Homo sapiens: one gene and its partners. The protein of the gene in region 2 interacts with the protein of the main gene of each other region in a biochemical or structural test. Each region holds a gene or a part of one and is shown on either strand. Other genes may lie near its edges. The genes, in order: CARD11, ABCA2 and DLG2.

Region 1 (3,650 bases), on a different chromosome or scaffold from region 2:
AACTATCCCTACTTCCTATGATTTTTCCTAGCCTCTCACCCAAAGATTTGTCTTCCTGCTCTCAATCCCAGAGAACCATATATTATTCCATAATTTTTATCGTGCTTCCAACCTCCTTCAGTCATAGAAGACCTGGTGCCTACGTGGTTCATTTTGGCCCTGGTCAGTTGGGAAACTCTTCAAAACTGGGGCGGCAATTCCATTTATCCTGGTTCTACCAGTTTATTAGAAACAGAAAACTAACGCTCACCAAATCCCTGCGGAGGGCCTGGCACCTTGATTTACGTCATCTGGGCTCCAAGATACAACTCAGAAGTGATAGAATGTGGGGAGACTGTCTTCTTAGAGTTGATTGAAGGACACAAGTCCAGGATGAGACCAGCCACAGAGACTTGCGTTCCATCAGATATGTATTCTCACAGAGTGATCTGGTCTTTCCCCTAGGCCGGCTGTTGGACATTCTACATACCAAGGGGCAAAGGGGCTATGTGGTCTTCTTGGAGAGCCTAGAATTTTATTACCCAGAACTGTACAAACTGGTGACTGGGAAAGAGCCCACTCGGAGATTCTCCACCATTGTGGGTAAGTGCTTTTGCCATTGGGAACATCTGGACTCTAAGAGGAGGGGCGTGTGTGTGTGTGTGTCTGTGTGTGTGTGTGTGTGTGTGTGTGTCCTCAGTAGTGGCATGGTTCTTAAGCTGTGAATCTATGACATATAGAACTGGGGTCTGTCAACCACTTATTTTGCTTGATGATGAAAGGTTAACAGGGGCAAAGGGAAGCAGGAACCAAGAGAAGTGGGTGTTCACGGACCATCCCCCATGAATGGCGCCAGGTGGAACACAAGTTCATTCTACCCCGTAGATCTTGTCCTTGCCTTGCCTGCATTCTTTCTAGTGTCTCATGGGCCAGAGCCCTTGAGCATCTTGCCTTCTTAATCTTCCTTTCTAAACATTCTTGAATCAGTCTTCTCGCCCGCCCCAACACTTCCCACAGTCCAGACTCCCACAACCCCATTAACTCTCCATATCCATTCCCGATCTGTTCCAGTGCTTTCTCCATTCTTCCTCCCCTATTTAAAACCCTTTGGTGGTTTTTCATTGCTTCTTTGTAAAGACCCAGGTCTTGGCCAGGCACAGTGGCTCATGCCTGAAATTCCAACACTTTTGGAGGCTGCAGCCATAGAATTGCTTGAGCCCAGGAGTTCCAGGCTGCAATAAGCTATGATCATGCCCCTGCACTCCAGCCTGGGTAATAGAGCGAGACCCTGTTTTAAAATATAAAAAAAGTCCCAGGTCTTTAATGCAGCCCACAAGGACCCTTCATGATCCAGTCCCTGCTGACACCACCAGCCTCGCCTTTCTCTTCTCTCTCTCTCCTTCGGCCACTTTGGTCTTCGTTCAGTTCCTGAAATATGCCAAGTTCCTCCCTCCTCCCCATATGGCCTTGGCAATGTTGTTCCCCTTTCCTAGAATGCCTTTTCCCACCCGAACTTAACATTTTACCTCAACCATCAGGAGCCTTCTCCAACCCCCTCTGCCCACAAGGCTGGATCTGGGCCCCTGCTACACACTCTCATAGCCCCATCTACCTTTACTTTGTGAAATCCTCACGGTCTGTAATTCTATTTGTGGTATCATTTGATTTTTTTAAATGTGTTTCTCTTATTACACCCTAAGCTCTCCCGGGGCCAAGGCTGTGAGTCTCGCTCACTCTGAATCCCCAGTGCCTCGTGGGCAGAGTGAGTAAAGAGCTTGGCACAACGTTGGTGAGTGAGTGAATGAATGGCACCTGCCCTGCGTCTGGAACCTCCTTTTTCCACTTCCCAGTCCTCAGGCCTGACTGGGTGCCCCCTCTCCACAGTGGAGGAAGGCCACGAGGGCCTCACGCACTTCCTGATGAACGAGGTCATCAAGCTGCAGCAGCAGATGAAGGCCAAGGACCTGCAACGCTGCGAGCTGCTGGCCAGGTTGCGGCAGCTGGAGGATGAGAAGAAGCAGATGACGCTGACGCGCGTGGAGCTGCTAACCTTCCAGGAGCGGTACTACAAGATGAAGGAAGAGCGGGACAGCTACAATGACGAGCTGGTCAAGGTGAAGGACGACAACTACAACTTAGCCATGCGCTACGCACAGCTCAGTGAGGAGAAGAACATGGCGGTCATGAGGAGCCGAGACCTCCAACTCGAGGTGAGGGGTGCCCAAGGGCTACTCCGCCAGGGTGACCCGGGGGAAACAAATGTCACCAGGGCTCAATTCTCCCATAAAGCAGGTGCAGGCACATGCACGTGGTCTGCCGGAGCTTCCTGCCAGCCAGGTGTGGGGGAATGGAGGACACAGGGCCTCTGGGAGTTCTAGGTCCACTATGCACCTGCACGTGTACCCATAGTGCTTAGCGCTACCGGGTAAGCGGCCTACATCCCCTGTGCGCATGGGCAGACATGCGCACAAGGACCGACCCAGTGCGCAGCTTTCCACCACCGGCTCAGTCCCAGATCCACCTTGCACATGCGCATGCAGACCCAGAATGGCTCACTCCGCAAATGAATTAAGGAGATTTACATCTTCTTTTTTCTTTTCTTTTATTTTCCTTTCCTTCTTTTCTTTCTTTCTTTTTCTTTTCTTTTTTTTTTTTTTTTTTTTTTTTTTTTTTGAGACAGGGTCTTCCACTGCCCAGGCTGCAGTGGTGTGATCATGGCTCACTGAAGCCTTGACCTCCTAGACTCAAGTGATCCTCCTGTCTCAGCCTCCAAAGTAGCTGGGACTACAGGTGCCCACCATCACGCCAGGCTATTCTTTCAATTTTTTTGTAGAAAAGGGGTCTCGCTATTTTGCCCAGGCTGATCTGCAACTCCTGGGCTCAAGTGATCTGCCTCCCTTGGCCTTACAAAGTGGTGGGATTACAGGTATGAGCCACTGCACCCGGCCTCGTTCATTCTTTCTGTTTATTGAGTTCCATCGGGTACCAGGCTTTTTGTTTTTGGGTTTTTTGGAGGAGTTTTTTGGACAGAGTCTCACTCTGTCACCCAGGCTGGAGTGCAGTGGTGTGATCACAGCTCACTGTAGCTTTGGCCTTGCAGGCTCAGGTGATCCTCCCACCTTAGCCTCCCAAGTAGCTGGGACTACAGGTACATGCTATGCCAGCTAATTTTTTTCTATTTTTATCCTACCCACCCCCCTTTTTCTATTTTTAGTAAAGACAGGGTTTCACCATGTTGCCCAGGCTGGTCTTGAACTCCTGGGCTCGGGCAATCTGCACACTTGGCCTCCCAAAGTGCTGGGATTACAGGTATAAGCCACCACACCTGGCCCCCAGGCTCTTTTCCAGGGATACATAGCTGAAGACTAAAACCCTTCTGTCGTGGAACTAACATTGTAATCAGAAAACAAATGCATAGATACTTGGTAGAAATGAGTGCTATCAAGAAGAGAAGACAGGGCGTGAGGACAGAACATGAGGATTGCTACTTTAACTAGGGTGTCCAGGAAAGGTCTCTGAGAAGGAGACACATGAAGAGAGATCTGAAGGGATGAAAGGAGCCAACCATGCAAGTCTCAGGGGAAAGCACTCGCAAAGCCCATAAGTAGGGGGCATTTTGTTTTTGTTTTTGTTTTTGTTTTTGAAGAAACAGCAGGAAGGCTGAGCTTGAT
Region 2 (3,650 bases):
GGCCCCCACCGCCTTCCCCGCCCCACGGGCCCCCTCACCAATCTTGGCGTAGTACTCGTTGATGTACTCGTTGTAGGCCATCTCCATGAGCCCGTGGCCCAGGTTGTAGTTGGGGAAAATGAGGAAGCAGCTTTTCAGGTAACTGTTGACAACCTTCAGGTCCTGCGGGGTGGCCGGGGTCAGGGGCACAGGGGTGGCCGGGGTGAGGGGCACAGCCTCCGCAGGGTCCGCCACCCCCACCATGTCGTCACCGCCCCACCTTGTCGTGCTCGAAGAGCTGTAGCAGGAAGGTGGCCACGGTGGCGGTGATGCCGATGAAGAGATTGATGACAATGAGGAACACGTAGGCGGAGCTGGGGACCTCGAACCAGAAGGAGGCCGGGTACATGATGGGCGTGATGGACCACCTGCGGGCAGGTGGCGGGCAGTGGTCACCAGGCAGCCCCGGTCCCACCTGAGGCCGCTCCCCCCTCCGCTTCCGCTTACCCATAGAGCAGGAAGAGGGAGAGGACGGCAGGGAAGTTGGTGGGCGACGTGTAGGCCGGCAGGTCGAACACAAACAGGATGATGACACAGCAGGTAGCGGGGACCAGGTAGTTGAGCTGCAGGGGTGGGGGCGGCTGGTGAGAGACCCGGGGCAGGGCGGGGATGGGGGATGAGAAGGGCCGGGGCACCCCATGGCCACGCCGGGCGCACCATGTCCCACACGTAGTTCGCCAGCCAGTAGATGATGGGGTTGCAGCCGCTGACAAACTGCAGGTGCTTGGCCTTGGTGGACTTCTCGGCCACGAGGAAGACAACGAAGCTGGCCGGCACGAAGGACATGGCCACGATGATGAAGATGGCGATGACGACATCCGTGCCCTGCAGCCTGGGGCAAGGAAGCCCTCAGTCCTCACGGCCGGGGCTGCAGTGCCCACCTGCCCCACCTCATCCCCCACTGGCCACACTTACAGGTAATCCAGGGAGAGGCTGGCGCTGGTCTTATTCATGGGGTGGTTGGTGACGGTGATGCCTGCACACGGCGGGGCGGGGGCGGCAGCTTCAGGCCCCAGCTCCTCCCCGCCCCGGCCCCAGCTCCTCCCCGCCCCGCCCCGCCCTGCCTATGTCAGCTCACCGTAAGCCGCCGGGTTGCCCTTGCTCTTGGGCAGGTTGGCACGCAGGATGGCGTTGTTGAGGCTGTTGAGGTAGGTGGGCATGCTGTGATAGCCCTTGTTGTTGTAGAAAACCTGCAGAAGGAAGAGGACACAGAAAGGCCCCAGGACCTCAGACCTGGGTCCCTGCAGACCTCGGGCGGCGCTACACACAGCGGGGCCCAGGCCCGCAGCCTCGCTCACCTGGGCAGCCCTGCGCACCGCGATCTTCCGCACCATGGGTGGGGCCCTGGTGCCAAATGAGGCTGGGATGGACTTCAGGACGTTTCCAAAGGTGATGGCCCCATACCTGGGCAGGCAGGTGGGAGGGGCGGTGAGGCTAGGCAGGCAGTGAGGCTAGAGGGGCAGGAGTTGAGACTAGGTGGCTGGTGGCCGGCCACCCTCACCCACAGCCTCCCCACCCAGCTCACCGGTGCAGTCGGAAGCGGTCGGAGGTGAAGAGCAGGTACTCAGAGACATTGTGGCCGGTGATGTCGGTCAGGATGTCGCCTGTGACCACCCGCATCTGGGGCGGGTGCCCGCCCACACTGCTGGGGCAGGAGAAGCCGGTGCCCTGCGCAGAGCAGGTGCAGCGGACGGGCTCCCGTACCAGGCGCGGCAGGGAGGGTGCCGACGTCCACATTTCTGTGGGCACAGCATGGTGCGGTGAGAAGGACCCCTCACTGCCCCTGCCCCCCCAGCAGGCCCCCTGAACCACTACCTGGCCCAGCGGTGGGCGGCAGGGAGACGTTCCAGGCCTGCAGGTCCTCATCCGGGGACGCTGGCGAGTCAGATGGGGCGGGCGAGGGTGGGGGTGGCACGAAATTGGACAGTGGCAGCCCCTGTGTGAAGGACTCCAGACACATGCTGTCGAAGAACCGAGCCGCCAGCAGGCGCGACTCCCCGCTGCTCAGGTTCAACGTGGGCCCCAGCGAGCCGTTGGCGGGAGACTTGAGCACGCAGGTGGCACCCACCCCCGACGGCAGCCGGAACGTGCTCACGAGCTGCTGGGGGCTGGCGTCGGGCGATAGCCGCAGCCTGCGGGCACCGACAGTGTGAGGTGGGGCTGCCAGTCTCCGCCCCTCGCCAGCCCCGCCCCCTCGCCCGCCTGGCCCACCAAGGCTGTCCCCGCCCCTTCACTCGCCCCACCCACCAAGGCTGCCCCCGCTGGAGGCCTCACCGGTACTCGCGGCGCTCCTCGTTGGCGTAGGGGATGAAATTGCCACGGGGCTGGGTGTAGTTGTGGTACTGGGAAGGTGACAGGACCAGCGGGGGCAGATCACCTGGCAGGGCGAGCAGGGAGGCCTGAGCAGGTTCTGCCCTCTGGCCAGCGGCCCCCAAGCCTCGGTCCCCTTCCCCCAACCCCAAGGGATCCACGCCTGGGGTCTGGGACCCGAGGAGACAGGACTCCCGGATGAACCCCGGTGCGTGCCCAGCCTCAGGTGTGGGGTGAGGCCCAGAGTCAGGAAGCTCAGGAGTGGGCATCATCAGGGCTCCCAGCGGGCGGTGGGGGGAGGCAAGCCCAGCACCCCTGTCCAGCCGGTGGCCTACCAATCTCCGGGACGGACAGGGCCACGGTCATGGCCACGCAGACGAAGAAGGCTGGCAGCAAGATCTGGGAGAAGAGTGCCTTGGAGTTGCGGCGGGCGCAGTGGAAGCGTTTGACCAGCAGCCCGTGGAACTGGCGCACCTTCAGCCACCCGCCGTCCAGCTTGCGGCTGCCCTGGCCGACCCTCGACAGGGCCTCTGCCTCCACCTCTGTGCAGAGAGGTAGAGGCTGAGCAGGTGGTTGCACGCTACCCTCTCCCTACTGGCTGCCCTCATGCCGCTCCCCCGCAACCCTGCTCCCCCTCCCTTGCTGTCCCAGCCTCACCCTGCCACCCCCACCTTGCAGGCTGACATTGTCTGGGTCCTGTGGGTTATCAAAGAGGGGGCGGTAGTCGCCATAGACGTCGGTGTAGCCAGCTCCCTCGTCGCCACGGGCAGAGCCCACAGATGACGCCGACTGCAGCGATGCCTGCGACTGGGTCAGCTCCGAGCACCGGGCCAGATTGCCAGCGTGACCCTCCCCAGACGCCGGGCCCTCCGCCCCAGGGAGCACATCCTTCCTGGACTCCTTCACATCTGCCGCAGTGGAAGGGCCGAGGGGACACTCAGGGCTACTGGCCCCTAGGCCTGCCCAGGACCCCCATCCCCGGTCTTGACCCCAGTTCCCAGGCTCATACACCTGTCCGGGACCTCTGGCCACCAGGACCACCCACCTAGGACCGCAGGCTAACCCCGGGGCGTCCCCTGGCTTCCACCCAGGACCAGGGTGGCGCCCCCAGACACCAGGCAGGAGTGACAGCGCAGGCCCGAGCTGGGGCCTTGTGGGTGGGGTGGGCTGAGCAAGTGGTCCAGGCCCCTCACCGGCCTCACTGTTCTCCAGCGACTGATCCTCCTCCGACACCTTGAGGAACACTTCCTCCAGGGTCGTGTCCATCAGCCCGAAGCTGCTGAGGTGCAGTGCATCCAGGC
Region 3 (3,650 bases), on a different chromosome or scaffold from region 2:
CCAAATGTGCCACTGCTGTCGTTCCCTCAGGCCTCATTCCCCTGGGAAGCCATTTATCCCACTGAGTGTTTACAATATGAAGATTTATTTTTCTATTTCTGAAACAGGCCTTTAAGATGGCTGTTCCCAGGAAGTAAGGACTATTTTTCTTCTCATTAATGTTAGCATTACTTATATTTATGAGGCTCTTGACAGATTATAAATCAATTTTACATCATGAAATTTGTACTTGCTTAATTCACTTTGTGCAATGCCCGACATAGTATCCTATACAAGGAGAAATTTAATACATGCTATTGGGGATGATAATATTAAGAATCATTATTTTATCATTAGTACATATTTTTCCATGTGCCAGCCATGGGAAAAACTCTTTATATTATAATTTAATACCTAAATTCATGGGGCTGAAGGTACTGTCAGTGACCTCCCGATCTTACTTTTTTTATCCTGGTAAGAATCCTTGTCCATTTTTTATATATGGGACTATATTCTGCTTTCAAGGTACATCTCTGGCTATTTCCCCAGAGCTCAACTATGTATTTAACTTAATTCTCTCAGGCTGCCACTCCAGCTGCTGCAGTTTGCTTTGCTTCTTTGTCTTCAGAGGAGACACAGAACAGTTAATATCCTCTGTAAGCAATTGCTTTCACCACTGGGATTAAATAATTTCTGTTTCTTCGGTCCTTCCATAAACATTATTTTCCAGTACTCTGTGGTTCACTCCTGAACCCTGTCAAACACTATGGTCTTGAGGCCCAGATGAAGGCAAAATTTGATCAAGGCCCTCATGACAGACACATTGGCATTATCTCTTGCACTGTCATGGAAGAGGTACTGTTTATGTGTTTTATAATGATAAAATAGTTTTATTCCTTTATAATGAAGTAATTTTATATCTTTTACAATAATAATAGGTATTATTTATTGAGTACTTACCATATGCCAAAGAGTACATGAACAGCTTTACTAAATTCCTAATCTTGTTATTTAACCTTTATACTAGCTCTATGAGGTATTTATTAGTATGCCTCGTTTCGAGGTGAGGAGCTAAATCTTAGAAAGGTCAAGCAATTTGCCCAAGGTTACTTAACTGATCAGTGGCAAAGTAAAGAACCAAATCTTGCCTGATCAATTTTCAGGTCCCTGCTGGTAGCCCCTTTTCTGGTTACCTCTATCTACTGTAGCTTCACCTTTGTGAATGGGAGTTGCCTATACTGACTTTACAGTCAGATCGTGAATGTCTGCCCACTTTGTTTAATGATTCTTGAAAGAAGTTATTTCACAAGTCCTTTGGAGGGGAAAAAAAAAGAAAAAACCCTGAGTGCACAGGTATGAAGCTACTGGTTTAAGTTACAGATGTTTTACTGCCACGCCACTAAGAAAACTCTATTAAGAACGATGTTCTATGTATGTAAAGTTTTAATTAAGGAACATCAGAATTCTATTAGAGAACCAAGGAAAATGCCAATGAAAAAAGTCTCAAACGTTGTCTGCTCTCTCTATAAAAAATCTACACATTTAAAAAGATTTACTTATAGACCTGCCTCAGAAGTATGAGACAATTAAAAAATGATTGCTTCCTATCATTTGGAAAACAAAAGCAAACCAAAAAACCAAATCAAGCCAAGCTATCCTCAAAACAACAACAACAAAACCTCAAAAACTAACAAAGAAAACAATCCGTGAAGTAAAACAATAAAAATCAGGAAACATTATTGAAGATGTTTTAAGGAATTACTATTATTGTTAAAATGAGGGATGTTAAAAAAAGAAATCACTGACATTATGTTTCTAGTTGTTTAAAAGAACTTTGATATATCTTCAAAAAAAGAGAATGCTGAAAAATCAACAATGGCATTTCCCATTTGTAAGCATTCCCAGCAAAATCCTGTTAGTAATTTTCAGTATAATACAGAACAGGGAGTCAGTTGGATGAAGGCCTCCAATGCCCTCTACTCACATAAGAGGTTCCAGAGACCTGGGTTTTATGAAGATGGCAATGGGATAGAGCTGGGCAACTTGTAACCGCTTGATAGCATTTCCTGATACATCAAGTATACAGTGTTTGCCCTGGTAGAAAGAGAAGAAAAATATGAAGTTAATATAGGAAGCATGGCCATAATCCAACAAAAGGAAACTAATGTATGTAGGTTTTAGAGGAAGGTAGGGGATGCTGGATTTCTAAAGTCAGAAAAAGATCACTGCAAAGAGTAAATAAAAATCGATATATAGGGTCATCATTGAGTGTTTACAATAACTAATACTAACTAGCCCCTTACAAAGTGTCTGCTACTGGACTGGACATTTTACATATGTTCTCTCAGTTAAATACCTGATGTAACACACAAAGATGACATGCAGCCGTATGTTATGTGACTGAGTCTGTTCTCATGAAGTTTAAAAACCATCTCTGAACACAATTGTCAGAAGAAATTCCCAAATCTCTGAGGTAGGTATTATCAGCTGCATTTTACAGAAGACTCACACTAACTAACTTGCCCAATAGTTTAGTGCTAGGAGCATGCAAACCCAAGTCTGGAGCACTAACAGAATTGTTGGTTGGAAAAAATAGACACCTCATTGTCTCACCCTGCCCAACATTCGGTGTGGAAGATTGAGAATAATGTGAATTTTTCCAAGTACTTGTACATATCCTGTCTGCAAGGTACTCAGTCTAGTGGAGGGCAGACACAAAAATGGTTAACTTAAACATATGGTTGGTTGGGTGCAGTGGCTCATGGCTGTAATCCTAGCACTCTAGGAGGCCGAGGCGGGTGGATCACCTGAGATCAGGAGTTCGAGACCAGCCTGACCAAAATGGTGAGACCCTGTCTCTGCTAAAAATCCAAAAAGTTCACCAGGCATGGTGGTGGGCACCTGTAATCCCAGCTACTTGAGAGGCTGAGGCAGGAGAATCACTTGAACCCAGGAGGTGGAGGTTGCAGTGAGCTGAGACCGTGCCATGGCATTCCAGCCTGGGCAATAAGAGTGAAATGCCATCTCAAAAAAAATAAAAACTATATGTATATATATATATATATATATATATATATATATATATATACACACACACATATAAAATATATAATTAAAACATATATATATATATATATATAAATTAAATGCGGGTTAAATGCCAAGAGAGAAAGGCTTGCATGAGGTATGTAAATTTCTTGTTTGTTAACAAATAAAAATGCTATTACATTATAGCACACCTCATTTAACTTGGCTTCCACCACAATGAGTGCTCAGAGCAAGCAGCTGCTTTATAAAGCATTTCTGGATATGCAGATACATTTGCCACATCATATTCTACCTCCTGGAGAGAAATGTCCTCATTACCCTGAGGCTAGAATAACTTTATGCAAGAAGAGAAAAAAGGCACTTTATGCAGATAGGAACAATACTAAATCAATAATAAGGGCTAAAATCTCATCTATAATGTTCACATGAAAATGAATACAGTCCAGTGAATACTTGAAGTCTTCTTATCTGAGAAACCCACTAAGATGGTTCAAGCCGTTATTACTTAGGTAATAGATTTCAAGTTTTCTATCTGTGAAGTGCAGCAGCCACATAACATGTATAAATGCTGGTTGATTATTCACCAGTCAGAACATTTCAAGTTAACAACATGAACAAAGAGG

Evidence for each region.
Region 1: the proteins of ABCA2 (region 2) and CARD11 interact in a test that uses a peptide from one of them, tested with the Homo sapiens proteins (one large-scale study listed by IntAct).
Region 3: the proteins of ABCA2 (region 2) and DLG2 interact in a test that uses a peptide from one of them, tested with the Homo sapiens proteins (one large-scale study listed by IntAct).

What each region holds. Positions count from the first base shown.
Region 1 is NC_000007.14:2,942,751-2,946,400, reverse strand, and holds part of CARD11 (caspase recruitment domain-containing protein 11), read left to right. Parts: intron 1-444; coding exon 445-582; intron 583-1,863; coding exon 1,864-2,189; exon of another isoform or gene 2,190-2,366; intron 2,367-3,650. UniProt on the Homo sapiens protein: Adapter protein that plays a key role in adaptive immune response by transducing the activation of NF-kappa-B downstream of T-cell receptor (TCR) and B-cell receptor (BCR) engagement.
Region 2 is NC_000009.12:137,011,148-137,014,797, forward strand, and holds part of ABCA2 (ATP-binding cassette sub-family A member 2), read right to left. Parts: coding exon 3,543-3,650; intron 3,258-3,542; coding exon 3,021-3,257; intron 2,892-3,020; coding exon 2,685-2,891; intron 2,417-2,684; coding exon 2,314-2,416; intron 2,172-2,313; coding exon 1,855-2,171; intron 1,779-1,854; coding exon 1,565-1,778; intron 1,444-1,564; coding exon 1,338-1,443; intron 1,230-1,337; coding exon 1,118-1,229; intron 1,016-1,117; coding exon 955-1,015; intron 872-954; coding exon 697-871; intron 603-696; coding exon 487-602; intron 408-486; coding exon 260-407; intron 163-259; coding exon 39-162; intron 1-38. UniProt on the Homo sapiens protein: Probable lipid transporter that modulates cholesterol sequestration in the late endosome/lysosome by regulating the intracellular sphingolipid metabolism, in turn participates in cholesterol homeostasis.
Region 3 is NC_000011.10:83,464,745-83,468,394, forward strand, and holds part of DLG2 (disks large homolog 2), read right to left. Parts: intron 2,074-3,650; coding exon 1,964-2,073; intron 1-1,963. UniProt on the Homo sapiens protein: Required for perception of chronic pain through NMDA receptor signaling. Regulates surface expression of NMDA receptors in dorsal horn neurons of the spinal cord.